7 separate regions of the Homo sapiens genome follow, and regions 2, 3, 4, 5, 6 and 7 are each reported to be linked to region 1. The links are microRNA targets in miRTarBase. Many come from high-throughput screens and were not tested one by one. Region 1 holds a microRNA gene; each other region holds the end of a gene's coding sequence. Distances are from middle to middle.
Evidence for each region. Region 1 holds the annotated microRNA hsa-miR-6758-5p (UAGAGAGGGGAAGGAUGUGAUGU, at 1,893-1,915, opposite strand). A microRNA usually pairs through its seed, bases 2 to 8, with sites in the 3' UTR of a target mRNA and lowers its output. Matches are read on the target gene's strand: a 7mer-m8 pairs with bases 2 to 8, a 7mer-A1 pairs with bases 2 to 7 and ends in A, and an 8mer does both.

Region 2: the mRNA of PRKAR2A is a reported target of hsa-miR-6758-5p. Seed matches in the 3' UTR shown: 7mer-m8 at 3,221-3,227 and 7mer-A1 at 3,148-3,154.
Region 3: the mRNA of ZNF70 is a reported target of hsa-miR-6758-5p. Seed matches in the 3' UTR shown: 7mer-m8 at 723-729 and 7mer-m8 at 678-684.
Region 4: the mRNA of SV2C is a reported target of hsa-miR-6758-5p. The part of its 3' UTR that is shown has no 7-base or 8-base seed match.
Region 5: miRTarBase lists SNX4 as a target of hsa-miR-6758-5p. Seed matches in the 3' UTR shown: 7mer-A1 at 1,275-1,281.
Region 6: miRTarBase lists IGDCC4 as a target of hsa-miR-6758-5p. Seed matches in the 3' UTR shown: 7mer-m8 at 1,120-1,126 and 7mer-m8 at 1,561-1,567.
Region 7: miRTarBase lists PIANP as a target of hsa-miR-6758-5p. Seed matches in the 3' UTR shown: 7mer-m8 at 596-602.

The regions. Positions count from the first base shown.
Region 1 is chr12:57,510,608-57,514,607 of GRCh38, reverse strand. It overlaps MIR6758 (microRNA 6758), which reads right to left and starts at 1,920; the gene lies at 1,858-1,920. MARS1 (methionyl-tRNA synthetase 1) reads right to left here. Exons shown (of 21, transcript NM_004990.4): 12 at 2,740-2,910; 13 at 2,505-2,600; 14 at 2,255-2,372; 15 at 1,644-1,857. It also overlaps the pseudogene LOC124903093.
Region 2 is chr3:48,748,025-48,752,235 of GRCh38, forward strand. It overlaps PRKAR2A (protein kinase cAMP-dependent type II regulatory subunit alpha), which reads right to left. Exons shown (of 11, transcript NM_004157.4): 10 at 4,152-4,211; 11 at 1-3,694. The coding sequence ends at 3,561. Among named protein-coding and RNA genes, the nearest start is that of IP6K2, 33 kb to the left of the region's middle.
Region 3 is chr22:23,740,205-23,744,415 of GRCh38, forward strand. It overlaps ZNF70 (zinc finger protein 70), which reads right to left. Exons shown (of 2, transcript NM_021916.4): 2 at 1-4,211. The coding sequence ends at 3,596. Among named protein-coding and RNA genes, the nearest start is that of ZNF70, 8.8 kb to the right of the region's middle.
Region 4 is chr5:76,325,121-76,329,331 of GRCh38, forward strand. SV2C (synaptic vesicle glycoprotein 2C) reads left to right here. Exons shown (of 13, transcript NM_014979.4): 13 at 244-4,211. The coding sequence ends at 427. Among named protein-coding and RNA genes, the nearest start is that of SV2C-AS2, 16 kb to the left of the region's middle. RefSeq lists an enhancer at 312-811.
Region 5 is chr3:125,444,077-125,448,287 of GRCh38, reverse strand. It overlaps SNX4 (sorting nexin 4), which reads left to right. Exons shown (of 14, transcript NM_003794.4): 14 at 462-1,638. The coding sequence ends at 509. It overlaps LOC124906351 (small nucleolar RNA U13), which reads right to left and starts at 2,227; the gene lies at 2,125-2,227.
Region 6 is chr15:65,380,181-65,384,391 of GRCh38, reverse strand. It overlaps IGDCC4 (immunoglobulin superfamily DCC subclass member 4), which reads left to right. Exons shown (of 20, transcript NM_020962.3): 20 at 1-2,908. The coding sequence ends at 383. Among named protein-coding and RNA genes, the nearest start is that of IGDCC3, 4.3 kb to the right of the region's middle.
Region 7 is chr12:6,691,678-6,695,875 of GRCh38, reverse strand. PIANP (PILR alpha associated neural protein) reads left to right here. Exons shown (of 5, transcript NM_001244014.2): 5 at 225-2,085. The coding sequence ends at 450. Among named protein-coding and RNA genes, the nearest start is that of ZNF384, 4.4 kb to the right of the region's middle.

The DNA.
Region 1 (4,000 bases):
CCTGGAACAGGTAACTCCTGGCTCCCTCAAGCTAGTAGACAAGGCCTAATTATTTACTCTTTCTCTCCCCTAAGAATCTGACTCTGCACATAAGAAACCTGATTAAGTTAAACAACTGTACCTCTTATTTTTAAGAAGTCATTACTCGGCCGGGCGCAGTGGCTCACGCCTAAAATCCCAGCACTCTGGGAGGCCGAGGTGGGCAGATCACCTGAGGTCAGAAGTTCAAGACCAGCCTGGCCTGGCCATGGTGAAACCTCGTCTCTACTAAAAATGCAAAAAATTAGCCGGGCGTGGTGGTGTGCACCTGTAATCCCAGCTACTCTGGAGGCTGAGGCAGGAGAATTGCTTGAACCCGGGAGGCGGAGGTTGCAGTGAGCCAAGATCGCGCCACTGCACTCCAGCCTGGGCAACAAGAGAGAAACTCCATCTCAAAAAAAAAAAAAAAAAGTCATTACTCAAAATGACCAAGCTGAGTATGTGTTAACTGCTATCAAACAAACACTCTAGGCAAGTACTTTTTTTTTTTTTTAATTTTTTTTTTTTTTGAGGATTCTCACTCTGTTGCCCAGGCTGGAGCACAGTGGCATGATCTTGGCTCACTGCAACCTTTGCCTCCCGGGTTCAAGTGATTCTCCTGCCTCAACCTCTTGAGTAGCTGGGATTACAGATGTGCGCCACCACGCCCGGCTACTTTTTGTATTTTTAGTGGAGACGGGGTTTCACCAGGTTGGCCAGGCTGGTCTCGAACTCCTGTAGGTAAGGACTATTTATTAAATGTGGTTAATTACCAAAGCTGAAAGTGAGTAGCAGGACTGACCTATAAGGGTCCAGGGCTCAGAGAGTGTGACTAAAGAATCCTAAATTCTGGAGAATACTGCTTTAGATTGCAGAAGAGCTGAGATAGGCACCAATGATAGAATGTGAGCCTAAGGTAACAAAAACTCTGAACTCTGAAGAGTATAGCAGAAGCCTTTTTTTTTTTTTTTTTTTGAGACAGGATCTCCCTCTTTTGCCAAGGCTGGAGTGTAGGGGTACGAGTACTGCTCCACTGCAGCCTCAATCTCCCAAGTTCAAGAGACCATCCCGCCTCAGCATCCTGAGTGGCTGGGACTACAGGTGTGCGCCACCACGCCTGGCTGATTCTTTTTGTAGAGATGGGAGATTCATTATGTTGGTCAGGCAAGTCTTGAACTCCCGGCCTCAAGTGATCCTCCTGCCTCAGCCTCCCAAAGTGCTGGGATTACAAATGTAAGCCACCATGCCCAGCCCACAGAAGCCTCCTACCCCCACACCAAAATAACCCCTTTCTTCAGCCAAACTTTTCAATGATCTGCAGGTGAACTATTTTGCTGGGAGAGAATACATCTTCAATTCTACAAAGAACAGTAATAAGGAAACAATTTACAAAAACCCACTTTATAACCAACTTTGCTAAATCACATCTCTACAGCTAACTGTTCCATCAAGCACACATAGCCTAGTATGTGCTAGGAACAGATCCCAATTAATAGAAATCAACTTTCCACAGTGTCCTCACAGCCTCCTGCCCATTTTCTAGTTCTCTCCACATTCCCATCTCCTGAGGGAAAATGAGCCCCACCCCAGCTCACTGCTAACTCTGACCCCTTACCAAGTCCTACCTGTTGATGAAGTTGCCCAGGTTGTTAAGCAGCTCAGAATTATTCTTCAGCAGCAGGTCCGTCCAGGAGAAAGCACTGTCCTGGCCCTCAGGCCGAATGTACAGCAGATAGAAGCGCCAGATGTCAGCAGGGATCCCCGTGTCCTGGGCCATGTCCCCAAACACTCCCACACCGCGGCTCTTAGAGAATTTCCCATCCTCATAGTTCAGGTACTCTGGACAGAGGAGAATGAGTGAGAACCATCTGCTCACATCACATCCTTCCCCTCTCTAGCCCACTAACTCTTCCTTCTTTCCTCTTTCTAACCTCAACTATGGGTGTCTAGCAACATTTCTCCTTAAGGGGCTGGTATGCTCAGATTTTGGGAGTCCCTTCCTATCCATTCTGGCCCTTTTTTCTCTTTGCTTATATCTACTAAAGAGTTTTAGCTTTAGACTTTTGCTTTCTTCAGGTTCTTGTTCGTTTCTCTAGGTTGAGTTCTCATTTTAATTATTTCCTATTTCAGCTCAACTCCTAACTCAAGATAGCAGCTCTCCAAGATCTTTTTCCAAGTACTGCCTCACCCCTCATTTCCTATGAACACCCCATCAGTAGTCTTCCAGGGTACTTACCTGTAGCAATGAGGTGGCTGACCAAGGTATAGTTATCCTCAGCTCCTAGGGCTGAGCAAGGAAAGACTAAGCTATGGAAAGGAACATTGTCTTTGGCCATGAACTGATACAGGTCCACCTAGGGGAATGTGGTTAGGAGAGATTTCCTGAGACCTCCTTCAAAGGCCCAAGGAAGACCAGACACCCAACCCTAACACCCACACCCTACCGCCTACCCTCCCCATGCACAGCCTAACCAAGAACTGCTCACTTGCTCTGGGTTCTTCCACCATCTCTCCCACTGGTCTGTGTAGTTGGCTGTGATGGACAGATAGCCAATAGTGGCATCAAACCAGACATAGAATACCTGGAGGTCAGAAGGAGGTAAACATGTTAGGGACCAATCCAAAGTCTCAAACTGAAACAAGACATAATCAGCAGTCTACTCTGCTAGCCCAGGGTTTCAACACTAAGGCTGAATGATATGAATAAAAAAGGGTTTTTACCTTGTCTTCAAAACCTTCTAAGGGTACAGGGGTTCCCCATTTGAGGTCTCGGGTTATGCAGCGTGGCTTGAGGCCATCCCGAAGCCAAGAACGGGTGATAAACTGGGCATTGGGTGTCCAGTCACTGCCAGGCAATGTCCTCCCCAACCACTCCTCCAGTCGCTTCTCCAGCTGAGATAACGGAGAAAGAGGGCTGATTTAGGAAAGTCTCATATATGGTTAGCATAAGGATAAACACATATAACCTTTTTGGAGCACAATTTGGCAATATATAACTTTTTTTTTGGAGACAGAGTCTTGCTCTGTTGCCCAGACTAGAGTGCAGTGGTGCAATCATAATCACAGCTCACTGCAGCCTAAACCTCCTGGGCTCAAGCAATCCTCCTACCTCAACCTCCCCAGTAGCTGGGACCACAGGTGCACACCACCATGCCAGACTGTAATTTTTGTAGAAACAGGGTTTTGCCACATTGCCCAGGCTGGTCTTGAACTCCTGAGCTCAAGCAATCTGCCCACCTCAGCCTCCAAAAGCGCTGAGACTACAGTTGTGAGCCACCCTGCCCAGCCTTAACTAGATTTTTAACACACAGCCAGGGGCAGTGGCTTGCGCCTGTAATCCCAGCTACTCCGAAGGCTGACGCAGGAGGATCACTTGAGGGCAGGAGTTCATGACCATCCTGGGCAACACAGCAAAATCCTGTCCCTAAAAAAAATTTTTTTTTTTTTAATTTTTAAAAATATGGAACACTTCACAAGTTTGCATGTCATTCTTGTGCAGAGGATGTGCTAATCTTGTCCATATCAGGGTCTCACTGTCACCCAGGCTGGAGTACAGTGGCACATCATGGCTCACTGCAGCCTCAACCTCCCAGGCTTAAGTGATCCTTCCACCTCAGCCTCCTGAGTAGCTGGCACTACAGGCACGTGCCACCACACCTGGTTAATTTTTGTATTTTTAGTAGAGATGGGTTTCACCAAGTTGCCCACCCTGGTCTCAAACTCCTGGGGTCAAGCAATTCTCCCGCCTCAGCCTCCCAAAGTGTTGGAAGTTGGAATTACAGGCATAAGCCACCGTGCCCAACCAATTTTTTCTTTTTTTAAATACAGACAGGGTCTTGCTTTGTTGCCCAGGCTACTCTCAAACTCCTGGCTTCCAGCGATCCTCCTGCCTCAGCCTCCCAAAGTGCTGGAATTACAGGCATGAACCACCATGGCCAGCTGAGGAAGTGCAAAAAAGAAAAAAAAAATTTTCTTTTTTTTT
Region 2 (4,211 bases), not on the chromosome of region 1:
TCTCCCTTCCTCAAGCTATTAAATAGAACCCTCTAGGGATCCTGTATGCAGTGAGGGTCTGAACTGATGATCCATATGTCAATCAGTAGTTGGAGGAGGATGACTTTTTTTTTTTTTTTTTGAGATAGGGTCCCACTTTGTCCCCCAGACTGGAGTGCAGTGGCACGATCATGGCTCACTGCAGCTTCAGTCTCCCAGGTTAAAGGAATCCTTTCACCTCAGCCTACTGAGTGTGCACCACCAGGTCCAGCTAATTGTTTTTTTAACTTTTTTTTTTTTTTTTTTTCTTGGTAGAGACAGGGTCTCCCTCTGTTGCCCAGGATGGTTTGGAACTCCTGGGCTCAAGCAATCCTCCCACTTTGGCTTCCCAAAGTGCTGAGATTACAGGCATGAGCCACTATGCCCAACCTGAGCAGGATGACTTAAACCTGATCAATTCTACTCCAAAACAGCAACTATCATTAAGTCAGGGGTGTCAAGGAGGACTCTGTGAAGGCAAAGACTAGACTGGGATGTGTGCGAGAGTGGGATAAGAAGGCCCATCCCTAGCAGACTGCAGGAGTGACTCTGGCATAGAATTCATGGCCAGCCCTAACTAGTGTGATGGGTGGCAGGGAGGAGGCATCTGCTCAGTGTTCAAACAAAATCCTTACAAGTTCTGGGGCTGGACCTCTGTGTCACTCCTGAATCCCAATGTATCCGTTACCTTTACAAGAAACTGGTGTGGTTCTTGTCTGCTAAGGGCAAGACCTGTTTTCTGAATTTACTTTCTGATAATAAAGTAACACCATGGAAAAGAAGAACCTCAGAAAAATATGGGGTCACCACATGGGCTTTCCCAGTGCTAGCTGCCTGTTTTGGAAAGCTGCAATGTAGGCTACAGAGGGCAGTCTGAAAAGAGTCCTTCTGCTTTCGCTTCCTGGAGCTTAAGAAGAAAAGAGGAATTACCAAGGTTGTGGTGGGTTATTTACTCTGGAAATATCTTGGTCACACTGTCCGTGGCAAAAGCGGAAAGCCTAGCTTATGTGGATAGTTGAAGGTGACTGTGTGGGCCATCATTATCTACAATAGAAATGACTCAAGCCCTAGCATGTAATCTCTTAGGGACTTAACAAGTTAAAAAGAAACAAAAAATCATATTGGAAATGGCCTCTTGGTTTAATATAAACTTGGTTACAACATTCAAATTTATCTTTACGGAAATTTCACACTGCTCCTAGGAGCCCTTATAGCATCTGATTCTAAGTTATTCTGAAGGAAAAAAAAATTATTCTGAAATATACCTTATTAGGATGATCACTGGAATTCTACCAGATATAAGTAAAAGGCTAAATGGGTTTTAAATAAATACAAGCTAAATTACCTTCTTCTGGGGTTAACAATTAGAATCCCAAATACCCCAACATCTCAACTAGAAAGGCCTTCACAGTAATTCTATGAAATTGTAAATGATGCCAAATTTTTTTTTTTTTTTTGAGATGGAGTCTTGCACTGTCACCCGGGGTGGAATACAATGGTGCAATCTCGGCTCACTGCAACCTCCACTCCCAGGTTCAAGCGATTCTCCTGCCTGAGCCTCTCAAGTAGCTGGGATTACAGGCGCCCACCACCATGCCCAGCTAATTTTTTGTATTTTTAGTAGAGACGGGGTTTCACTATGTTGGCCAGGCTGGTCTTGAACCCCTGACCTCGTGATCCGCCCGCCTCGGCCTCCCAAAGTGCTGGGATTACAGGTGTGGGTCACCGTGCCTGGCCAATGCCAATTTTTGAAAACAGATTTGATCTTTAGGGTAAATGCCTGAGTCAGCTGACAAACTCCATATACATGAATATGTCCAAGTGAAATTACCTAAAGAATAATTTTTTTTCTTTCTTTTTTTTTTTTTAAGAGACAGGGTCTCACTGTGTCACCCAGACTGGAGTGCAGTGGCATGATCACAGCTCACTGTTGCCTTGACCTCCTGGGCTCAAGTGATCCTTCCACCTCAGCCTCCTAAGTATTTGGGACTACATGCATGCATCACCACACCTGACAAATTAAAAAAAAATTTTTTTTTTGCCAGGTGCAGTGGCTCACATCTGTAATCCCAGCACTCTGAGAGGCTGAGGTGGGCGGATCACCTGAGGTTGGGAGTTTGAGACCAGCCTGACCAACACAGAGAAACCCTGTCTCTATTAAAAATACAAAATTCGCCCGGCATGGTGGCGCATGCCTGTAATCCCAGCTACTCAGGAGGTTGAGGCAGGAGAATCACTTTAATCTGGGAGGCGGAGGTTGCGGTGAGCCAAGACCGCACCATTGCACTCCAGCCTGGGCAACAAGAGCGAAACTCCGTCTCAAAAAGAAAACAAAAAAAAAATTTTTGTTTTTGTAGAGACAGGATCTCACTCTGTTGCCTAGGCTGGTCTTAAGCGATCCTCCCAGCTCAGCCTCCCAAAGCACTACAATTATAGGCATGAGCCATTGAGCCTGGCCTGAGAATTTTCTTTAATTTCAAAAAAATAGCTGCTGCTTCTTTAAAGAGTTTAAAAATTGATCGGTTCAATGGCAAAGCTACACAACAACTCTGGAGTAGAAGGAAAGAACTCTCTTTATAGTACAACCTCTTTCCAGCATACTGCCATCAGCTAGTAGAGGCAACTGCAAACAAATGGTAGGAGTTGCCCAGGAAGGTATTTGGGCTGGACAAAGTGATAGCAACCCTCCAGACCCTGGCTCCTTATAAATGTATAGCAATTCATTCATACAAACTGCACAGAGGTTAAACAAAACCTACTAAAAAAATTAAAAAATCCCACAAAATCCCCAACCCAGAAAACGTTTCCTGGCTCTCTACTAACAGTAAAATGTGCTGAGCCCAAATTTTCTGCTCTAACATGGGTCCCACGGACCTATCAGTCTGCTCTGGGGTGCTGACCTGCTGGGTCCTGAGCAGGGTCTTTCCCTAAGCATCACTGTGGGTTTGGAGACAGCTGTAATGTGTGCAGCTGTCAGCAGAAAGTACAATGCCACTGGGCTACATATGTCCATATCATCCACCACCATTTCCCACTGTAAAACCAAAGGCTGCAACTGTGAACAAATGTGGACTTCCTCAAAGGACAAATGAGGAGACTGAAGGCTACATTTCCTCCTTTGAGAACCATTAGAGAGTGTCTACAGTTATACAACAGGTTTCTGCAGACCCTGTGGTAACTTCCAAAAGCAAGAGTAGCAGCAAGAGAGGAAAGGAGCATGTTTATACTTTGGACTTTGTATCAGGCACTTAAATTGTTGGAGAGACATGCCGTTTTGAACCAAAGATATAAAAACTGGGTTGGAGTAATCTTTACAAGTGGTCTAATGAATGGGCCTTCAGAAGCAAAGTGGAGGTGTGGGTTGAACCTCTGCCCATCCTTTAGTGCTGACTTTCAAGTTTTCTAAATGCCCATAACCACAGCAATGGCAGCAGTGGCGGCAACGGCAGGAACAGTTCTGTCATGTCTGTTTTCTGTATGTGTTCTGTGGCTGACCAGAAGGTTTTGGTGTCACACTAAGAAGGCTCTGGGGTGTGGCACACCTACTGCCCGAGGTTGCCCAGATCCACGCTGGAGCCAAACATCTTCACCAGCTGTTCCTCATAGTGTGAGATGTTCCTCTTCATGATGTCCATGCAGGGCCCCAGAAGCCTCTCGAATGCTTGTACATCCATAACTGCATTGTTAAAAAGAGGTGAGGGAGAGAATGAATTCAAGCCATTTCCCTCATGCAAACCTTTTCCTAAACATACCCATTCATGTTGTATGAGATTACGCCTTGGGACACCAGCCACTTGCAAAAAGGGATGTTTCTATATGAATTCAGAAGACTGTCATCCAGGTTAGAGACTTTACAGAGTCCAGCAGCTCCTGTTCTCCCCATTCTCCCACAGCCCTGGACATCAGTTCTTTTCATACGGCTAAAGAACCTGCATGCCTGTCTTGCTCACAGGCTGTCATCAGTACTCAGAAATGTTTGCTGAAAGCATCCATTCATCCATCTCTGGTTGGTCACATAAACTGCCTAGGCCTAGACAGCAGTAAAAGATGGCAGAATATGTCAAGGCTTGCTGATGGGAAAAAAATATTACATGTTAGAAAAAGAATATTAATGCATAAAGAACTTTTCTTACCTAAGCATTTGACATCTCCAACTGCATAAGCTGAGGCAGCTCTGGGTTTGTTGGTGACCA
Region 3 (4,211 bases), not on the chromosome of region 1:
GAGGCTGAGGCAGGAGAATGGTCTGAACCTGGGAGGTAGAGCTTGCAGTAAGCCGAGATCGCCCCACTGCACTACAGCCTGGGTGACAAAGCAAGACTCCATCTCAAAAAAAGAAAAAAGAAAAAAGAAAAAAAAAGGTAGGACAACAAAAACAAAGAACAACTAAATTAAAAGATAATTGATTAAAATATTGCCAGGGATGATCTTTTATAACTTTACACTGTTTGAGAATCTAAATAGAATGAGAGAGTTTAAAAAAAAAAATCTAATAAGCTGGCTGGGCACATGGCTCACGCCTGTAATCCCAACACTTCAGGAGGCCAAGGCAGGCAGATCAGGAGGTCAGGAGTTCGAGACCAGCCTGGCCAACATGGTGAAACCCCATCTCTACTAAAAATACAAAAGTTAGCCAGGCGTGGTGGCACATGCCTGTAATCCCAGCTACTCAGGAGGCTGAGGCAGGAGAATCACTTGAACCCGGGAGGCAGAGGTTGCAGCAAGCCAAGATCGCACCACTGCACTCCAGCCTGGGTGACAGTGAGACTCTGTCTCAAAAAAAAAAAAAAAAAAAAAAAAACTAATAAAACAAGGAAAGAATTTGAACAGAGGGAATGAGGCTCTGGTCATACTTCCAAAAAAGAACCTGGTCTTACCATGTTTATCTGTTAACCCTTGGGAGAGAGGGGGGATCTTCATCTCCACGTTACACAAAAATTAGAAAGAGAGAGGGAGGGAGAGGAGGAGAAAGTGCACATTTCAAAATGCAAGAACAGCACAGAATTATGAGCTGGGAGTGATGCTGGAGTGGGCAGGGGCGGCCTGATCTCCATGCGGCTTGCTCAGAGTGGGTAAACCAGGTTGGCTGAAACGAGGGTTTACGTGCAGGAAAGCTCCTGAAAGTTGGTTTTAAGGAGAGTGGTGACTTGTGCAAAATGATGCTTTAAAAATCAATTTGGCTGGGGTGTGCAGGAAGGATGGGGAGGGAGAAACCAAAGATAGGTAACAGACATTTGCCAGATGATAACGGTGGGGAAGAGGGGCAGGTGTAAAGAGGAGGTAGATCTTTCAGGGACCCCTGCTTGATGCCGCCTGCTGTCCCCACTGCATCCTAGCATTCTCTCTTCACTCTTGATAGAGACAGGCCTGAAATGACAGGCCACTTGCAGGCAATGCCCAGGGCACCATCCAGTCAGTCCAACTGGTTACACAGAGGGTTCTGGTGGACAATGGAGTGCTGGTTAAATGTTAAATGTTTCACATACGTAGCAAAGACAGGGGCTGGACAGAGGCATGGCTGGAACTCCCACCATGACCTCTCCAGCCCATCATATCTGTCATTTGGAAATCTCTGGCCTATCAAGACCCACTTAGTAACAGTTATGGCTTTCCCATGTTTATTCATCAAAACTAGGCATAATGGCCATGCTGAGCTTCTGATCAGCTGAAATACCCAGTGTTACCATGATGAGTTCATGTTAGCCCAGCCATAAATGTTTAGGAAACTTCAAAACAGCCTAGACTGCCTCCTTCCCCACTAGCTCTGAGGAGCCCAAGGGAAGCCAGGACTAAAGAGATCCCCAAGGCCCCAGCCAAACACTTTCCAAGCGCCCAGCTGACCATCAGCCTGAGCCCATCCCTGAGGCTCCGGGTGCGGGGAGCAGGGAGTGAGGGCACTGAGACAGAATGGCCTTCAAGCTCTGCTCAGCCAAAGCCAGCAGGCTGACATTGGAAGCTGTCGAGGGATGCACAAAAACCCAGCATGGGCCAGGTGTGGAGGCTCATGCCTGTAATCCCGGCACTTTGGGAGGTCAAGGCGGGCAGATCACGAGGTCAAGAGATCGAGACCATCCTGGCCAACATGGTGAAACCCCGTCTGTACTAAAAATACAAAAAATTAGCCAGGCATGGTGGCACGCACCTGTAGTCCCAGCTACTCAGGAGGCTGAAGCAGGGGAATCGCTTGAACCCAGGAGGCAGAGCTTGCAGTAAGCCAAGATCACGCCACTGCATTCCAGCCTGGCAACAGGGCAACACTCCATCTCAAAAAAAAAAGCCCAGCACAGGGCCCACAGCCTGGCTGCACACTAGGAAGTTATAATCACCTGGGGAGCTTTAAAACATGCCACCACTGGGGCTGACTGAACTGGTCCAGGTGGGACACAAGCAATGGTACTGTTTAAACAAGCCCCACGTGAACTCCTAGTTGGCAGGCGGGGAAGACAGACAGAATGTGGAAGTGCAGAATGACACTGCTGCTACAGGAGGCTCAGGATGGCATCCTAGAGGAAGTGTCCTTGTGTGGGACACTGCATCCGCAGGCATACACAGCCCAGGCTGCAAGGGGTGGAGGGAGAGAAAGCCCTGTTCAATGAGAGGTCCCACTGCTCAGAAACCAGACGGGAACATCTCTCCAGTCCGTGGAAATGCACAGGGGTGGGGCAGGGGTCACTCTGGGTCTCTGTCCTCAGTCACCATGACTGCTCACAGTTGCCAAAGCACTTTCACAGTGGCTGTGTTCTGAATGACAGCCTGGCACCAACCCTTAGAGGCACGTGGCCAGTTCCCATTACCCCAACTCTTGGATGGGGGAATGGAGCCTGGGGAAGTTACAGGACTTGTTCAAGCTCACCCAGGTAGGAGGGGGTGGAACTAGGACTTGAACCCAGACCTTCTGATTAGAACACAGCCTCCTCCAACAAGCCACCCAGCTTCCCAGGTCCCCTGACACTGGGGCAGGAGGGCTGCATCATTGCCAGAACAGACCAGACCCAGGCCCTGCTGATGTCCAAGGCACACTGTGGTCTTGGGGACACTATGTCTCAGGGAGGGGTTATTCCTGGAGGGCAGTCATGTCCGGTGTCCAGGCTGAGTCACGGCTGGGTGTCAAACATCCTCTGGCCAACAGGATCAAATCTCTATCCTCCTGTAACAGAGCTGTCTGAGGGAAACTGCCCTAGGGCTAAGGAGAGGGTTAAGAGGCCACGCCCAGGGGCTCACCACCCTCATCCCCAATCTCAAGACCCACCCTCCAGACCTGCCTTTGCTCTGCAGACCTGTTTTGGTTGTCCCCACCAATGCCCAACGCAGTGAGAAAATTCTACTTTGCTGCTGACACATCTACTTTTGAATTCATTTTTCTTCTACTGCTTTGGACTGTGAGTGTGGTTTCTGTCTTCTAAAAGTGCCAGACTGCAGCCTGTTTTAAAGAGTTCTTCTGATATTTTCCTGGGTTTAATTCAACTTTCTCCCTCTTGGCATTTATTCTTCTAGATTCTGGGAAATGTGAAGACAGGGCAAAATGAAATCCTGTAGGCTTGGGAGTCAAATGCAAGAAGGAGAAACTGAAGGCCAGCTGTCTTTTCTGGCTGCCCTCCCTATCACCCCACCTTCCCTTCCATGCAGAAAACCTGCTGAGAGCTGGCGTGCTTGGCCCAGGGCCACACAGGGCCTTCCTGCTAGTGGGATGTTCAAGAGCGCTTAGGTGGGAAGGTTTCCATTCAGCATCAGGGAGGTAGGTGGGGTCTTGGAGACCACGCGACGTGGAATAAAGGCTCCATCTGGCACAGGCTTTCAAGCTTTGTGTGGGCTCCTCTTTCTATAGCTTCTCCCCAGAATGAATCTTCTGATGGCGAATCAGGTGCGAGCTCCCCCGGAAGGACTTGCCGCACAGATTGCACACGTAGGGCTTCTCTCTGGTGTGGGTTTTATAGTGCTCAATGAGGGCTGACCGGTGCCGGAAGGCTTTGCCACACTCGCAGGTGTAGGGCTTCTTGCCGGTGTGGATTCTCTGGTGCTGGATCAGCGCAGAGCTGTGGCAAAAGGCCTTGCCACACTGACAGCACTCGTAGGGCTTCTCACCGGTGTGGATGCGCTGGTGCTCAATGAGGGAGGAGCTCTGGCTGAAGGCTTTCCCACACTTCTGGCATTTGTAGGGCTTCTCGCCAGTGTGGGTCTTGCGGTGCTCAATGAGGTTGGAGCTCTGGCTGAAGGCCTTCCCGCACTCATCGCATTTGTATGGTTTCTTCCCAGTGTGGATCCGCTGGTGTCGGATGAGGTGTGACCTGTGACAAAAGGCTTTCCCACAGAGATCGCACTCGTGAGGTTTCTTTAGGGTGTGGATCTTCCGATGCTGGCTCAGGCCTGAGCTCTGGTTGAAGGATTTCCCACATTCCTTACACTGATAAGGTCTCTCTCCTGTATGAATTCTCTCG
Region 4 (4,211 bases), not on the chromosome of region 1:
TGGGACTTACAGGCAGAGTAAGAGTCAATGGAAGCTATGGTAAGAAAGTCAACAGAGGGCTGGAGGAACAATACCAACAGCTAGGATTCTCTACTCCCAGATTTGCTAACAAGCATTGATTTGCTCCACTGATATACAACACAATCTGAGGGAAGATCATTGAAAATCTAGGATCTTTTGGTCTAAAGTTGGAATCATGGGGAGGCATTTTCTCAACCTTGTTCATGTCTCTTTCCTTTGCAGGGCAACAGGCTTTGGCTTCTTAAATGCGCTATGCAAGGCAGCAGCCGTCCTGGGAAACTTAATATTTGGCTCTCTGGTCAGCATCACCAAATCAATCCCCATCCTGCTGGCTTCTACTGTGCTCGTGTGTGGAGGACTCGTTGGGCTGTGCCTGCCTGACACACGAACCCAGGTTCTGATGTAATGGGAAAAAAAGCCATCCTTCCTGCGTTTCTTCCTCCTGCCCTGGGTCAATTCTCCTTCCTGACTCAAGGCTTCAGAGTTTTCCTATATAGAAAGGTGATCAAGTATCAGAACATAAACACGTGCTGTGACTTAAAATTTAGAAGCATATCATCTTGCCCCTTTGTGATTTTGCACAGGTTGTTTGTTTGTTTTGTTTTGTTTGAATGCATTGTTATCTTTCCAAACTGTGATGCTACTGCCTCCCGCAAATCAGTGGAAGCATTTCTAAAATGCCCTAGGCAGCCAGGCTTCCCTGGGGTTCTGCTCATTGAAAGTTTAGAAGCTAAGAAGACTGGGCTGGTGTAAGAAATAGATCCTGCTCCTAATTTAACATTAACAGGAAATATAAGTCGGCACATTATTGCATTTGTGCTGAGAAGAGGGATTCTTTTTTTTTTTTTTTCTAACAGAGTGATATTTCCTGTTTACTTAGAAAAGGACACCCAGTAATTCTCACTGTTATAGCAGAGCCTTTCAAAGAAAACCATGTGGCACCAAACAGGGCTGGGTGGGGCTCTTTGGGGCAAGACAATTAAGGTGACCGCTGACAAGAAAAATAAAAGCTCTGCAATTAGCAGCAAAAATCTGAGTGTGCTGCATAAGCAAGATTTCTGTCAGAAAGCCCAATTAAACCTCTGAAAAGTGTGAGGAAAAAGAACTGTAACAGTATCTGTGACTGTGGCATGTGGTTCAGAATGTTTGAAAATCAGAGATCCGAGAGAGAGCTTCTGCCTCCATTTACCACTCCCACTCCTTCAGCTGCCCTTGGTCTTGCCAGACAGCAGATTCAGGGAAAGAAAGCTGCTTCTTAAAAACTGTCTGCCTACCTGATTCTGCCACTTACCCACACTGTCTCTAGTCTAGAGATTGCCAGTGGATAGCTAAATTGTAAATTGCAAATTAGGAAGAAATTCACACCCAGAGCCATTTGGAAATACAAAATGGTACCTCTTTCCAGTACCTCTTTGCTGTGGGACTGGCCCGCCAGGACCCCCACCCCACCTGGCCCGCAGTTGACATTCAGCTTCCCAGCTGGCATCAGCAAAGAGGGTTTGTCCCTCTAGCTTCCCCAGGGCTGGCCCACTGCTCAATGCGCTCCTGGCTCCCTGTAAAATCACAGCCCGCCTGCACTCCTGAGGGCCCCTCTCACAGACAGACCATCTCCCTGTGGTTGTTTGACTGCTCATTTTACCTCTGGAATCTGCCTGGGCTTGGAAGAAAGAGGTCAGCCAGGACATTCCCACGGGCCCGCTGTCAGCTACATGACCTTCTCGCCTCTCAGGCTCCCCTTCCCCCAGGCTCGTCCTTTTTACACCTCTTCTTTGAAATCTGAACCTTCCTTGTAGACTTGCAGCCAATGACCAGAAGCCAGGAATAAATCCCATATTTAAACAATATTCCTTTTTTAACTGCCTCGATAGAGGTTTATTCTTGTTACTTATTATAGGCATTTTCAGGCAAGCCATAGCTTGGGGCCTCCAGGAAGGGAAAGCTTTTGTTTCCACTGATCATTATTTTCAGAGATGTCCTAACTCCCCTGAGGCCCCCCTGCCTCCCCCTCCCCTTCCTAATGATCCCTCGCAGAGCTCAGACTAAGTGAAAAGCTTCTTTCATTAACATAAGCCATTAATCGACTTCCCCTTGAAGTAATTCAGGTCTGCAGAGGGGGGAAGACTGGTGTTGGGGGCAGTGGGAAGAGGGTGGTTCCCTGGGGGTCTGTGATCAGGGCTAGAACATCAGGAAAACCCGAACCAAAAACTGCAAAGGTGGCAGGAAGAAGAAAAATCACTGAAGGCTAGACAAGATGCATTTGAAAGATACCAACCGCACAGGGAAAGAAACAACTTTCTCTCACTTCTGCCTCCTATCATTTTATTGGAGAACAAAGACAGCAGTCAAACAACCCAAGAAAGTACCCTGTATGTTTTTCTTCTTCCACATGTACCCATTTTCCCACCTATCTCTCCCTGATTTGTCTTCTTTAAAAAGACATTTGGGGACCTGAGCAGGTCTTTTAGTTGAATGCAGCATGTGCAGAAATAACTGCAAAAGCCAGGAGTGCATCTCCATCAACCCATCAAAAGAAAAATAGAAATGTACATGGGCATCGCTGTCTCTAGTCCTCTGTGATAGTTCACTTTGCTAACTAGACTACCTTTACTTTTCAAAATATCTCTAATGTCTGCTCTGGGGTCTAAATGCATAAAACATCTCCCAAGCTGCAGAGCACAGTTATTCAGAATTTTATTTGAACACTGGGTTGGGTCAGCATAGGATAAACCAGCAAAACCTTACTTCATGAGACCTGCCATCCGTGTCCCCTGCAGAAGGACCGTTCTTGGCCTACTTGTTACCTAATCCAAGCATCCTTGGTGGCCTAAGAGGGATCTTTTCTCATCTCCTGGACAGTCTGTGGTCACAAACCTTCTTGGTCACCACCTCTCCCACCTTTTGTGCACTCTTCCCTGCCTCCTTGAGACTGTTCATCACCTTGATTTTCTAAGAGAGCTCAAATCATTTCCAAAGCATGTGGTGTGGCCTGTATAGCTTGCTCCAGATTTAGCTGGAGATTAAGAAACAGCCAGGATATTAAACAGAAACTCTCAGTTGTATCAGTGTAGCAGGCCACTGGCACCTAAACACGCAACTGGCATCTCATTTCGCCTACAGTAGAAGGAAAATGAAAATTTGTACAAAAATGAAAACCTAGGAAATAGTCCACTTGCTCCTATATTTTTACCACCTTTTCTAACTAAAATTTCCCTGTTGCTCTTTGGAATCAATCCAGAATGCTCCCAAGTCCCATTATTATCACAGAATCTTCTCAGTAGGGAAAAACAAACAACTGCTTCAAACTGTGAATTCTGTATGTACCACATTCTATCCCAGGTATTGGGTTTTAAGGCACCCAACTCACATTCAGTCCTGCTGCCTGAATCATCTCACACCAGAGTACAGACCTTGGAGACGCGATAGATGGGTCCTAGCCTGACCTTCACCACTAAGCGGTACAGGGACCCAGATCTTGCTGTGGAGACTGTAAGTCGTTGAACATCTCTAGTTCTCACTTTCCCCGTGCACAAAATAAAGGATTGGGACTAGTCTGCTCTCCACTCTCCAGCATTGTAGAAGACAGTAATGAAAATAGCTTCATCTTATCTGCCTTCTTATGCTAAACTCATTTTTTTTTTTTTTAGGTGGAGTTTCACTCTGTTGCCCAGGCTGGAGTGCAGTGGTGGGAACTCTGCTCACTGCAACCTCCGCCTCCCAGGTTCAAGTGATTCTCCCACCTCAGCCTCCCAAGTAGCTGGGACCACACGCATGCGCCACCACGCCCAGCTAATTTTTGTATCTTTTAGTAGAGGTGGGGTTTCACCGTGTTGGTCAGGCTGGTCTCGAACTCCTGACCTCAAGTGATCGGCCCACCTCAGCCTCCCAAAATGCTGGGATTACAGGCGTGAGCCACTGGCGGCCTCAACTCATTTTTACAAGCACTAAATAGGTTTAGTTTATAAACTGAAAAATTAGGAAATAGGCACGCATAAAAAGAGTGTAGGAAGTTGTTTGGGAAGCCCGCATGGAATAGGCCAGAAAGCACAGTCCCCATGCTGTCTGCCCTGCCAGCATCTCAGCATCCTGACTAGTATCTCTGTTCACTGCAGGTTTGACAGTTACCATCACCCAGCCAGAAAAGGGCCCCGCCTTGCCAGATAAACGCGCTTAGGTTAGAAGACTATAATTGC
Region 5 (4,211 bases), not on the chromosome of region 1:
CCAGGTGTGGTGGCGTGCACTTGTGATCCCAGCTACTTGGCAGGCTGAGGTGGGAGGATCCCTTGAGCCCTGGAGGTCAAGGCTGCAATGAGCCATGATTATACTCCAGCCTGGGTAACAGAGTGAGACCCTATCTCCAAAAAAAAAAAAAGACTGAAAACTTGTTTGATTTACAAATAGAAATTACTCGAGTATGTGATATGAAATGAATTAACTCAGTTTTCCAACAAGTTGTAGGAGTTCTTTTTCCATTTTGAAGATAAGTTCGTATTAGAGATTCTGTTTCTCTTTTCAGAAGCATTAGACATTTGCTTATATTAGCCACTTCCCAAAATAGTGTCATATTTTCTCGACTTCTTAATTATTCCAAAAAGCAAAACTTAGTGTACCACTAAGCCAAGTACTTGGGTTTTCAGATTCCTTCCAAACTCACATTTTAAAGTTTTTATTTTTATTTTTAGGGAATTCAAGTTTGGACCAATGCTAAGGAATGCTTTAGCAAGATGTAATCCTGTGAATTGAATTTCTCTTCAATCAAAGTGCCCCAAAACAGAAGCACAAGTAAATAAAAGAAATTTAAGTCACTACCTAGTATACATAAACATATACAATAAGTTAAATAAATTCAGCTTTCTTTAACTTAATTGTGGTCGTGTTAATGTAGCACAAAAAATATATTTTAATGAAGATTAAATATTATAATTTGAGGTTTTGGGGACTGGTGCTGATTCCAAAAAGTTAATTTAATAATATATACCAACAGATTGTTTGTCACGCTTCTGAACCAATGACTGAATGTCAAGATGTTCGTTAATTTCTAGATGTTTGTTTCAAGACCAGCTGTTTCAGATCTATTAATGTAGGGAATTTTTCCCTAAGATTGAATTCCTATATTTACTTGGTAAGATCCACTAATCTGTTATAGGGAGTTGTTTTCTCTTGCCTTATAGTTGAGCTATTTGGTTTGACAAAGCTCAGCAGAAACTTGATGTGAAAAATCTACGATTTTCTTCTACATTCATTGATGCCCCTTGTAATGTTTGCATACACTAGAAAATGCCTTCAATTTGTGTTTTACCAGAATTTTGATACTGGTCAGAAATTTTATACTGCCAACAAAGAAGACTCAACTTCTCAGATCTATAATGGGATACATTGTCATCCTCTAGCAACTCCTATATAGAAAGTTTTAACTGAATATGTTACATATAAGAATTAAATTCTTCTCAAATAATTCTTAACCTCAGTAATGAGCCTAAATTTACTCTGCTTGGCTCTCTACACATGGCATTTCAGGGTATAAGATGTAGCATTTCAATGTGTAAGATATATGTACTAAACATATGTGTTGCTATCTTCATCATTAACATCCTTCTTTTCTATTGCTTGGCTGTAATTTTTGTAAAGATAAATTATATTGTTTTTTTGTATGTGTGTTTGTAGTATATGTTCAGAAGGCAAGCATCTTCATTTTGCTAGCTTTGCAGAATCTTAAAATGTGTACTCGTTATTTCTAATGATGTAAAAAAAAATCCCTAGTCCTGTTTAGCATTTGACTTTTTTATATGTTTTAAATGTTGCTGGATTTTTGTGCTGTTTGCCAAACTTATACAATAAATAAATGAAATATTGTGCTGATTTTCAGATGATTTTTGTTAATTTAACAAAGTGATCCATACATATTAATATCTGATGCTCTGTAAGAAAATGATATCTGTCATACTATGTTTTAAAGTGATTAATGCCACATGTTCTCACTTATCAGTGAGAGCTAAACATTGAGTACACATGAACGCAAAGATGGGAACAATAGACACCAGGGCCTCCTTGAAGGGGCAGATTCGGAGGAAGGCGAGGGTCGAAAAACTAGCTATTGGTTACTATGCTCACTCCCTGGGTGATAAAATCATTTGTACACGAATCCCCAGCAACACACAATTTACCCATGTAGCAAACCTACACAGGTATCCCCTGAACCTAAAACAAAAGTTGAGGAAAGAAAAAAAAATAAAGTTATTAATGGTATAAATTTGTCATCTACCAAAATATTGGTTTTTAAAAATATAAGATGCTGAAATAAGACATGATTTTTAAAATTTTACTTTTTTTTTTTTTTTTTTTTACTGTCAGATGGGTAATGGTTGAAGTTGTAACAAGGTTTGAGGGAGGCACATCTCACACGTGGGTGTGAATACCCAATCATCATGCTTATGAACCACAAAAGGATCATGAGTTTTTTTTTTGTTTTTGTTTGTTTTACTTTAAAAAAAAAAAAAGAGACAGGGTCTGATGTTGCCCAGGCTGGTCTGAACTTCTGAGCTCAAGGAATCCTCCCGCTTCAGCCTCTCAAAGTGCTGGGATTACAGGCGTGAGCCACCCTGACCCGGCCTGTTTTGTTTTGAGACAGGGTCTCTGTCGCCCAGGCTGGAGTATGGTGGCACAATTATGGCTCACTGCAGCCTCAACCTCTGGGGGCTCAAGTGATCCTCCCACCTTAGCCTCCCAAGTAGTTGGGACTACATAGGTACACCACCATGCCTGGCTAATTTTTTTATTTTATTCTTGTAAAGATGAAGTCTCACTGTGTTGCCCAGGCTGGTCTCAAACTCCTGGGCTCAAGCGATCCTACCCCGTTGGCTCCCAAAGTGCTGAGATATAGGCAGGAGCCCCTGTACCCGGCCATGTCAGGGTTTTATAAAAGATAAAATTGGTAGAAGCAAAAGTCATCTGTGTGGATACACATTTTATTCCACTGAATTGTATCATCTCTTGACAGATAAAATACCTTTCCCCTTGGCATTTAAAGATCAAAAGCCTTTTCCCCCAAACTAGCTTTGGACTCGATGTAAAATGTTAGACTTTTTTCTACTAGCTGACTTAATTTGAGAAGGCCATTATTAACTATGTTTCAAAAATGATTTAAGTTCCATGGCTCATGCCTGTAATCCCAGCACTTTGAAAGGCTGAGGTGGTTCGACTGCTTGAGCCCAGTTCAAGACCAGCCTGGGCAACATGGCGAAAACCCATCTCTACAAAAAATACAAAAATTAGTCGAGTGTGGTGGTGCACACCTATGTAATCCCTACCCAGCTACTCAGAAGGCTTAGGTAGGAGCATCACTTGAACCTGGGAGCTTGAGGGTACAGTGAGTCATAATCACACCACTGCACTCCAGCCCAGGCAACATAGTGAGATCCTGTCTCAAACCAGCCCAGGCGACATAGTGAGATCCTGTCTCAAAAATAAATAAATAAAAAGATTTAAGAAAACTCTAGACTGGGTGCAGTTACATGCCTGTAACCCCAGCACTTTGGAAGGCTGAGGCAACTTAAGGCCATCTTAAGGAGTTGAAGAATAGCCTGGGCAACATAGCTAGACTCTGTTGCTACAATTAAAATAACAAAAATTATGTTATTTTCTCTAAAATATACAAATGTACATTTGGTTATGTGTATATTTAACTAGGAATATCTTGACGGGGTTCCTTTTGAAAATTGTATTGCTGGGTGTGGTGGCTCACACCTGTTATCCCAGCATTTTGGGAGGCCAAGGCGGGTGGATCACCTGAGGTCAGAAATTCAAGAGCAGCCTGGCTAACATGGTGAAAATACATGAATTACAAATACAAATACTCTCCTAAAAATACAAAAATTAGCCAGGCGTGGTGGTGGGCACCTGTAATCCCAGTTACTCGGGAGGCTGAGGCAGGGGAATCGCTTGAACCTGGGAGGCAGAGGTTGCAGTGAGCCGAGATTGCACCACTACATTCCAGCCTGGGCAACAGAGTGAGACTCTGTCTCAAAAAAAAAAAAAAAAAAAAAAAAAAAAAAAAAATTGTTTCATTTTCTAGCACAATCATTCCTTTAAAAAAAAAAAGAATTTTATGATGGAAATTTTTTTGTACTATCCAGACTAAGTATAAAGAAAATAACCTTTGTTATAACCCTTTTAAGTATTTAAAAATCAGGAATTAAAATGAATTATTAAAAAGATGGGAGAATTAGTTCAGCAAAGATAAATATTAAAAGGCAATATAAGCAATAACTAAAGAAAAGTGACTCATCAAGTTAATGTAATTAGTAAGAAAGGAAGATTGCATCTTGACAGTGTATTAGTGATGTGGTTGGTATGGTATAGTTAAAGCATTAAATTAACCGGAGTCATATTTAACCTTCATTTATATCCAAAAACTTGAGTACAGATGAATGAGT
Region 6 (4,211 bases), not on the chromosome of region 1:
CCTGCAGGAACCAGGTGGAGGCTGAAGTCATTGTCCACTCTGACTTTAGTGCATCTAACGGGAACCCTGACCTCCATCTCCAAGACCTGGAGCCTGAGGACCCCCTGCCTCCAGAGGCTCCTGATCTCATCTCGGGTGTTGGGGATCCAGGGCAGGGGGCAGCCTGGCTGGACAGGGAGTTGGGAGGGTGTGAGCTGGCAGCCCCCGGGCCAGACAGACTTACCTGCTTGCCAGAGGCAGCCAGTGCTTCCTGCTCCTACCCGGACCTCCAGCCAGGCGAGGTGCTAGAGGAGACCCCTGGAGATAGCTGCCAGCTCAAATCCCCCTGCCCTCTAGGAGCCAGCCCAGGCCTGCCCAGATCCCCGGTCTCCTCCTCTGCCTAGCTCTTCCCAGAGGATGTGGTTTGGGGCAGGCAGGTATGGATCACATAGGATGCGATACCTGTGGCCGTGTATGTCCACATGTGTGCCTGTAGATACATCATCAAGCCCTTTGGAGCTTCCTAAGTTGCTTTGGCTGAGGGGAGAGGAAAACATGGATTATTCACTCCCCCCATACTCTTTGTGATACACATGTGACATGTGAAAGACATACGAGACATAGCTACATGTGATGTGCACATGTGTGAAGTGCATGTATGCGTACTGGTTGTTGAGCTGGGAAACCGTGGCCCAGGCAGTGGTCACTACAGCCTGATTGGTCCTCCAGGTCAGAACGGTGCCCCACAGTGGTCAGTCCCCAGCCCTGTGGGCCCCCACCTCCATCGCCCAGCCTTTTATTACACACTCTGAGAGTGTCTCCAATGCCTGTCTGACAAAGACAGTCCCAGCCCATTCTCCTGTCTGGCTGGGTTGGGTGCAAGCAGGCTCTGAATGCCTGGCATTTCAGCTGCATCACCTCCCAGCTCCTTATTGCCCAAATAGAGAGGGTGGCCCTGGCTCCCCTCCGAGCAACTCTGCATTTAATTTTGTAATCTGGGAAGTGCCTGGTTTTGAAAATCCGCTTTCTCTCACTCTTCCCCTCCTTCCTTGCCCCTGGCTGCTCTAGTGTTCTGTCTCCCAGTCACCTCGCTCTCCCAGCACCAGTGCCCTTCTCCTGCTCCCAGATACTCTTTCCTTTCCTCTCTCCTGTTTTCCTTCCTCTGCTATCTCTCACACCTCTCCCAGACTATGTCATCTTGTTCTCCTGCCTGGGTTCAAACTCTGCATCCTTCTCTAACAACGTGACTACCTCATGTCTGCTTCAAGGCCCCCGTGCCCTTCCTGTATCCGCGGCTGCCGCGCACTCGCCTGCCATCCTCCTGCCTCCTCTTCACTCAGTGCTTCTGCTTGCCCTGCCCCAGGCAGCCCACCCACGCCCAGTGCGGGTGTGGAGAAGATCTTCTGGCTTCCCTGCATCTTGCCTTTGGGATTGGGATCCAAGGGTTCTCCATGGATGGATCCAAGTCATAGAGGGGAATGTTTGAGACAGGGAAGGGGGCTGTGATCCAGAGGCTCAGAATAAAAAGATGCCCTCCCTTCTATGCAGGGGGGCAAGTTTACTGGATGGAGATGATTTGGGCCTCTCTTCCAGAAGAAGCTAAAGGAAGAGAAGGGGAGTGAGAGTTCAGGGAGGCCCTTCCCACCCTGTGAGGCTTGACTTGATCTGGATTGGGGATGACAGGAATCTCACCCTCTGGGGTGCTGGCAAGGAGGTCTTTGCACAGGAAAAGGGGTAGCTCATTTCAGTTTGTTTTTTCTTTAAATTGAATCCTCAAGTCATTTTCTGTTCACCTGCCGCACAGGGACAAGCTTGACTTCTATTTTCTGTGTAGTGAAAACAATGTCATTTATTTGGTTTTTCACCTCAGCCCTCTCATAGGAGCATAGAATGTTAGGGTCTTTACTCCCTAATGATGTCTGATTGGCACATCAAGAGTTAACTCTGCCTTCTGGGCCAAATTCGAAATAACCAGTCCATTTTTCCTTTTTTTTTTTTTTTTTTTTAAATGGTGGAATGTCTCTCAGCACAGTTGCGGCTTCCTCAAACCCTGAAAGCATCTGTGTTTATTATACTCGGGTGTCACTCACTGTTGATGTCTGCACCTACGTTTCCACCTCCTCCCCCTCCTTCAGCCAGCCTATGATAACACTAAAGATTATTAATGTTGGTTTTGTATCTCGTTAAAGACAGAATTGTCACTTGTAGTATTTCTGTAGCATTCAGCGCTGCTGTGGCTAACACCACTGTGTATGTTTCATCATTGCTCTGAAGGTCAAAAGCCTCATTTTATTTTGCTGGTTTGATTTTTTTTTTTTAAAGAAGAAAAAAAAACTGCCCTGAATTAAATGGCTGTTTTAACAGTAGGCTCTTAGCATTATACCACATAGTCATTTTTCATGTTCTTGTTTAACAGGCACTGAGGTTCTGGTTTAAATTAAATAGCTGCAAATGAGACAATTTATAACCCATTAGGTTGGGTGGAAAATTGTTTCTCAAAAGCAAATAAGTAATAAATCTGGTATCTGCCTATAACTCACAGTTGATAAGAAAGTGGCCATTTCTCACTAGCACTATATATGATTTGGGCTCTGGGTAATTTGGAAGTGTTAGGTTTGTGTCTTTGTAGCAGTATTTTTATTAGAAAAGAATCTATTGGCCTTTTACAGGGTATTAATCCCTTTGTCACCTACCATTGATGCCTTAAGTTTTCTGAGTCTCAATTAAAAATCTTCCTTTTCTTGATGCATGACAAGTGTAATCAGTACTTGCTCATTTATTTGTCTGTATTTAGTTTATGCTGTACTATTTAATTATCCTTCCAGCGTTTTTTTTTTCTCCTTACAAATATGATACTCTTTAGTGTTAAGCTAAGGCATTGATTCATGTATCTGTCCTTATAATGAATTAATAAACTATTTTCCAGAAATGTGGAATTCTCTTTTGGAACCATTGACCATGACTAGAATTTCCTCAGCCTTTGTGCCCTAGGGATTTTATTTCTTACTGTGATGGGAAATGATGTTGTTGTTGTTTTTGAGATGGGATCTCTCTGTCGCCCAGGCTGGAGTGCAGTGGCACAATCACAGCTCACTGCAGACTCAACTTCCTGGGTTCAAGCAGTCTTGTCACTGTAGCCTCCCTAGTAGCTGGGACTACAGGCACATGCCACCATGCCTGGCTAATATTAAAAAAAATTTTTGTTATAGAGATGTGGTCTCGTTATCTTACCCAGACTGGTCTCGAACTCCTGGGCTAAAACCATCCTCCTGCCCCAGCTTCGAAAAGTGCTCGATTACAAGCATGAGCCACTGCCTCTTGGCCCAAAATAGTGTTTTGTTTGTTTGTTTGTTTGTTTGTTTGTTTTTTCAGACTAATCTCACTTTGTCGCCTAGGCTGGAGTGCAGTGGCATGATCTCGGCTCACTGCAACCTCTGCCTCCCGGGTTCAAGTGATTCTCCTGCCTCAGCCCCCCGAATAGCTGGGATTACAGGCATGCACCACCACACCCGGCTAATTTTTGTATTTTTAGTAGAGACGGGGTTTCACCATGTTAGCCAGGCTGGTCTCAAACTCCTGACCTCAGGTAATCTGCCCGCCTTGGCCTCCCAAAGTGCTGGAATTACAGGCATAAGCCCCTGCGCCCGGCTCAAAATGGTGGTTTTTGAGGGTAAAAAGCAGGTGGTCATGGGAAAGAACTAAACCATCTTCCTCCCTCAACAGGCACTTAGGAAAAAGACGTAAACTTAGGAAAGATGTGTCCTTTGATGGCACTTCCTTAGACTCTCTGGGGATCTCTTTCCATCTGGGCACACATTTCTCTGAACTTTTTTGGGTGCAGGAAAGAGGGAACAACTCCAGAGATTTGGGCTCCACAACTATTCTCCTGTATAACTCTGGTCACCAAAATTACTCATGGCCACACAATCACACACACGTGCACTGTGTGTACAAGCTCAGAGACCCGCACATGCATACTTTGCCTTCACAAACACCCTTGTGTCTGTCCGTTAATGCAAATGTGCACACAGTCTCACACACAAAACTCCACACTCACACCCCACACACATCTTGGCATCACAGTTGGCAGCTGCTGTCTGCTAAGATCTTTACAGAGCCCGGAACATGCTTTCTATTGGAGGGAATCAAGAGCTAGAGGCTGCTTTGCTCAGGACCACCCCCAAAGTGGTGGGCCAGACCCAGAGTTAATTGACAGATCAGACAGAGAGATA
Region 7 (4,198 bases), 51 Mb from region 1:
GAGGGTAAGGAGGTTTAGATTACCAAGCTCCCCTAGAGGGCAGGGGAAGTGGCTTTATGGGCACAGAGTCCCAGGGGATTTAGTAGAGAGAACTGTTAAAGGCCAGTTTCTCTGCTATAAGATGTTGGGAGTGACTGGGCGAGGCTGGGGGTGACCACTGGTGCAGGCCCAGGATGGGGGCTACTTGAGTGTGCAAGAGAACCTCTTTTCCTCTGGTACCCCAGCTGGGACCGCAGCCAGAAGCGACGCAGACCCTCAGGGCAGCAAGGTGCCCTGAGGCAGGAGGAGAGCCAGCAGCCACTGACAGACCTGTCCCCGGCTGGAGTCACTGTGCTGGGGGCCTTCGGGGACTCACCTACCCCCACCCCTGACCATGAGGAGCCCCGAGGGGGACCCCGGCCTGGGATGCCCCACCCCAAGGGGGCTCCAGCCTTCCAGTTGAACCGGTGAGGGCAGGGGCAATGGGATGGGAGGGCAAAGAGGGAAGGCAACTTAGGTCTTCAGAGCTGGGGTGGGGGTGCCCTCTGGATGGGTAGTGAGGAGGCAGGCGTGGCCTCCCACAGCCCCTGGCCCTCCCAAGGGGGCTGGACCAGCTCCTCTCTGGGAGGCACCCTTCCTTCTCCCAGTCTCTCAGGATCTGTGTCCTATTCTCTGCTGCCCATAACTCCAACTCTGCCCTCTTTGGTTTTTTCTCATGCCACCTTGTCTAAGACAACTCTGCCCTCTTAACCTTGATTCCCCCTCTTTGTCTTGAACTTCCCCTTCTATTCTGGCCTACCCCTTGGTTCCTGACTGTGCCCTTTCCCTCTTCCTCTCAGGATTCCCCTGGTGAATCTGTGATGCCCCCAATGTTGGGGTGCAGCCAAGCAGGAGGCCAAGGGGCCGGCACAGCCCCCATCCCACTGAGGGTGGGGCAGCTGTGGGGAGCTGGGGCCACAGGGGCTCCTGGCTCCTGCCCCTTGCACACCACCCGGAACACTCCCCAGCCCCACGGGCAATCCTATCTGCTCGCCCTCCTGCAGGTGGGGGCCTCACATATCTGTGACTTCGGGTCCCTGTCCCCACCCTTGTGCACTCACATGAAAGCCTTGCACACTCACCTCCACCTTCACAGGCCATTTGCACACGCTCCTGCACCCTCTCCCCGTCCATACCGCTCCGCTCAGCTGACTCTCATGTTCTCTCGTCTCACATTTGCACTCTCTCCTTCCCACATTCTGTGCTCAGCTCACTCAGTGGTCAGCGTTTCCTGCACACTTTACCTCTCATGTGCGTTTCCCGGCCTGATGTTGTGGTGGTGTGCGGCGTGCTCACTCTCTCCCTCATGAACACCCACCCACCTCGTTTCCGCAGCCCCTGCGTGCTGCTCCAGAGGTGGGTGGGAGGTGAGCTGGGGGCTCCTTGGGCCCTCATCGGTCATGGTCTCGTCCCATTCCACACCATTTGTTTCTCTGTCTCCCCATCCTACTCCAAGGATGCCGGCATCACCCTGAGGGCTCCCCCTTGGGAATGGGGTAGTGAGGCCCCAGACTTCACCCCCAGCCCACTGCTAAAATCTGTTTTCTGACAGATGGGTTTTGGGGAGTCGCCTGCTGCACTACATGAGAAAGGGACTCCCATTTGCCCTTCCCTTTCTCCTACAGTCCCTTTTGTCTTGTCTGTCCTGGCTGTCTGTGTGTGTGCCATTCTCTGGACTTCAGAGCCCCCTGAGCCAGTCCTCCCTTCCCAGCCTCCCTTTGGGCCTCCCTAACTCCACCTAGGCTGCCAGGGACCGGAGTCAGCTGGTTCAAGGCCATCGGGAGCTCTGCCTCCAAGTCTACCCTTCCCTTCCCGGACTCCCTCCTGTCCCCTCCTTTCCTCCCTCCTTCCTTCCACTCTCCTTCCTTTTGCTTCCCTGCCCTTTCCCCCTCCTCAGGTTCTTCCCTCCTTCTCACTGGTTTTTCCACCTTCCTCCTTCCCTTCTTCCCTGGCTCCTAGGCTGTGATATATATTTTTGTATTATCTCTTTCTTCTTCTTGTGGTGATCATCTTGAATTACTGTGGGATGTAAGTTTCAAAATTTTCAAATAAAGCCTTTGCAAGATACTCGAGTCCCCTGGTTCTGCCTTCTGACCCCCGTAGAGAGGAGGAGAGGGGTGGGCAGCTAGGAGGAGGCACAGGATGAGGTGGGGACCCCCTCTAGACCTAAGTCACCTGCCCTCCTCTGACCTGGAGCTGGGGGCCAACTGGGGCTTTAACTTGGGACAAAATGGAAGGGAGCCATCCTGACGAGGAGCAGTGGTACAAGAGAGAAACTAGAATAGAAATCGTGGCTCACTTATTCCTTGCCAGGGAGGGTCAAGAGAGACCAAAAAAAGGGAGACAGAAGAAAAGGAAAGTTACATGGAAGGATAGGAGGTGGATCAAGGCGGAAGAGAGACCTGATAAGACAGACGGAGGGAGAAGGGGGAAAGGAGAAGAGAAAAATGGAGCAATGGAGAAAAGATGAGAGGGAGCCAGCCATCCGAAAGAAGCTGCCCTGCTTGGTTTATTTTCAGCTTTGCTCCCTAACCTGCCCCCACCCACAGCTGCCCCCCAAAAGCTGTGCAGAATCAGAAGCCCTGTGGTTAACTCGTTAGCTTTCCCTACTCTGCCCTCTCAGAGAGAGGCACTGCAGGGGTGTGGGGGTGGGATCAAGGGGTGTTTTTGGGGAGGGAATGCAGGCTGCCCAGCTGGGATCAGTCACCTCTCAGTCCCCAATTTCTAGGTTTGGCTCTTGTAACAGCCCTGTGAAAACCCACACATCAGCCTCTCAGCTGTTGCTAGGCTCTATTGCTATGGTAACCACCCAGGTCCCATCTATCCCCCCTCCCCCAATCTGTGCCCCACTTGCTCCCTGGAAATGCGGTGGCCCCAGGGAGGATAGGGATGATGTAGTGTACAAAAGGGTGGCCTGGGCTGCTCTGGACTGGATATGCCCCCATGCATTTATCTTTCAAGCTAGGTTAGGAATGTCTGTGTGTTGGTAGGTGTGTGCTTTAGGTGTTGGGAGCTTTACTGTGAGCTGAGGGAAGTGTGGCTGAGCCTGTGCAGCACATAATGCTGAGTGCCAGGAAGAGGCAGTGTATTTCTCAGGATTAGAGCAGTGTGTGCATTCAGGGCGTCACACTCCCTAAGAAAAGGACTGCTACAAGGGAAAGAAGCAGAGCTGGGCCAAGGATTGATGAACCAACTCAAAGCAGAGGTGCCCGGCAAACAAGCTTCTGAGGAGTCAACTCACTGGGGGCATGAAGATATCCCAGCAGGTGGCTGATGGGAGAGCGGGCTGGATAAAACCTGAGGGTACAGGATGAGGCATGGATGGTATACACTGTGGGCCGTGAGGGAGGGATCCAGATCCAAGGAGGGTGGGATAGGAAGCTTCATTAACCTTTCCTTCTTTCCCCACAGGAATCTAGTCCTTGTCAGGTGAGGGTGGGGAGAAAAGAGAAGCATTGGCACAGAAGGGGAAGGAGCTCAAGTGCCGGAGAGCACACTGGGCTCTCACCTTCAGCAAGGATCTCTCTTCAAAGGGACAGTGTGACCCGTGGCTCATCCATATGCAAAAGGCAAACATGAAGGCCCCTAATGAAGAGGGAATTAATTACTGCCTGATTAGACCACTGTTTCTCTAAATTTAAATAAATTAAAATACACCAGCAAGGTACTGGAAATCCTCACCTGTTCCCTCTTCCTAAATGTCCTCCTTTCCCCATGGAAAGTCAGAAGGCAGGAAAGACAGAGGAGGAAGGAGACTGTTCCAGACTCTGAACTGTACTAAAAAAATTCTCCCAAATGATACTGCACTGTCACGTTAGCCATGAAGAGTCGTAAGGCCCTGGGGAGCAAGCCCTAACTTTTCTCTCCTGTAGTTGAAACAGAGACTGTGGGGCTTTGAGAGGTCCTCAGAAAGCTGCAGCAGAGTCACTAGCCAAGAAAAAAACAATGGCCATGCTGTCCTTTTGGGAACTGGAAGGTTCTTCGAGGTCACACATCACAGCCACCACTGGAACCAGCGTCTCATCACCATCCTTTCTTTGCCTCCTGAGCTGTGCATCAAATGACTCAGCCAGGCTTCTCTTAGCATTTTTCTGGAATGCTTGCCACTGCGGCTTAGACCAAACCAGGGAATGGGGAAGCCCCCAGGAGGAGGGAGGGATCTCCCAGGCACAGCTTAGGG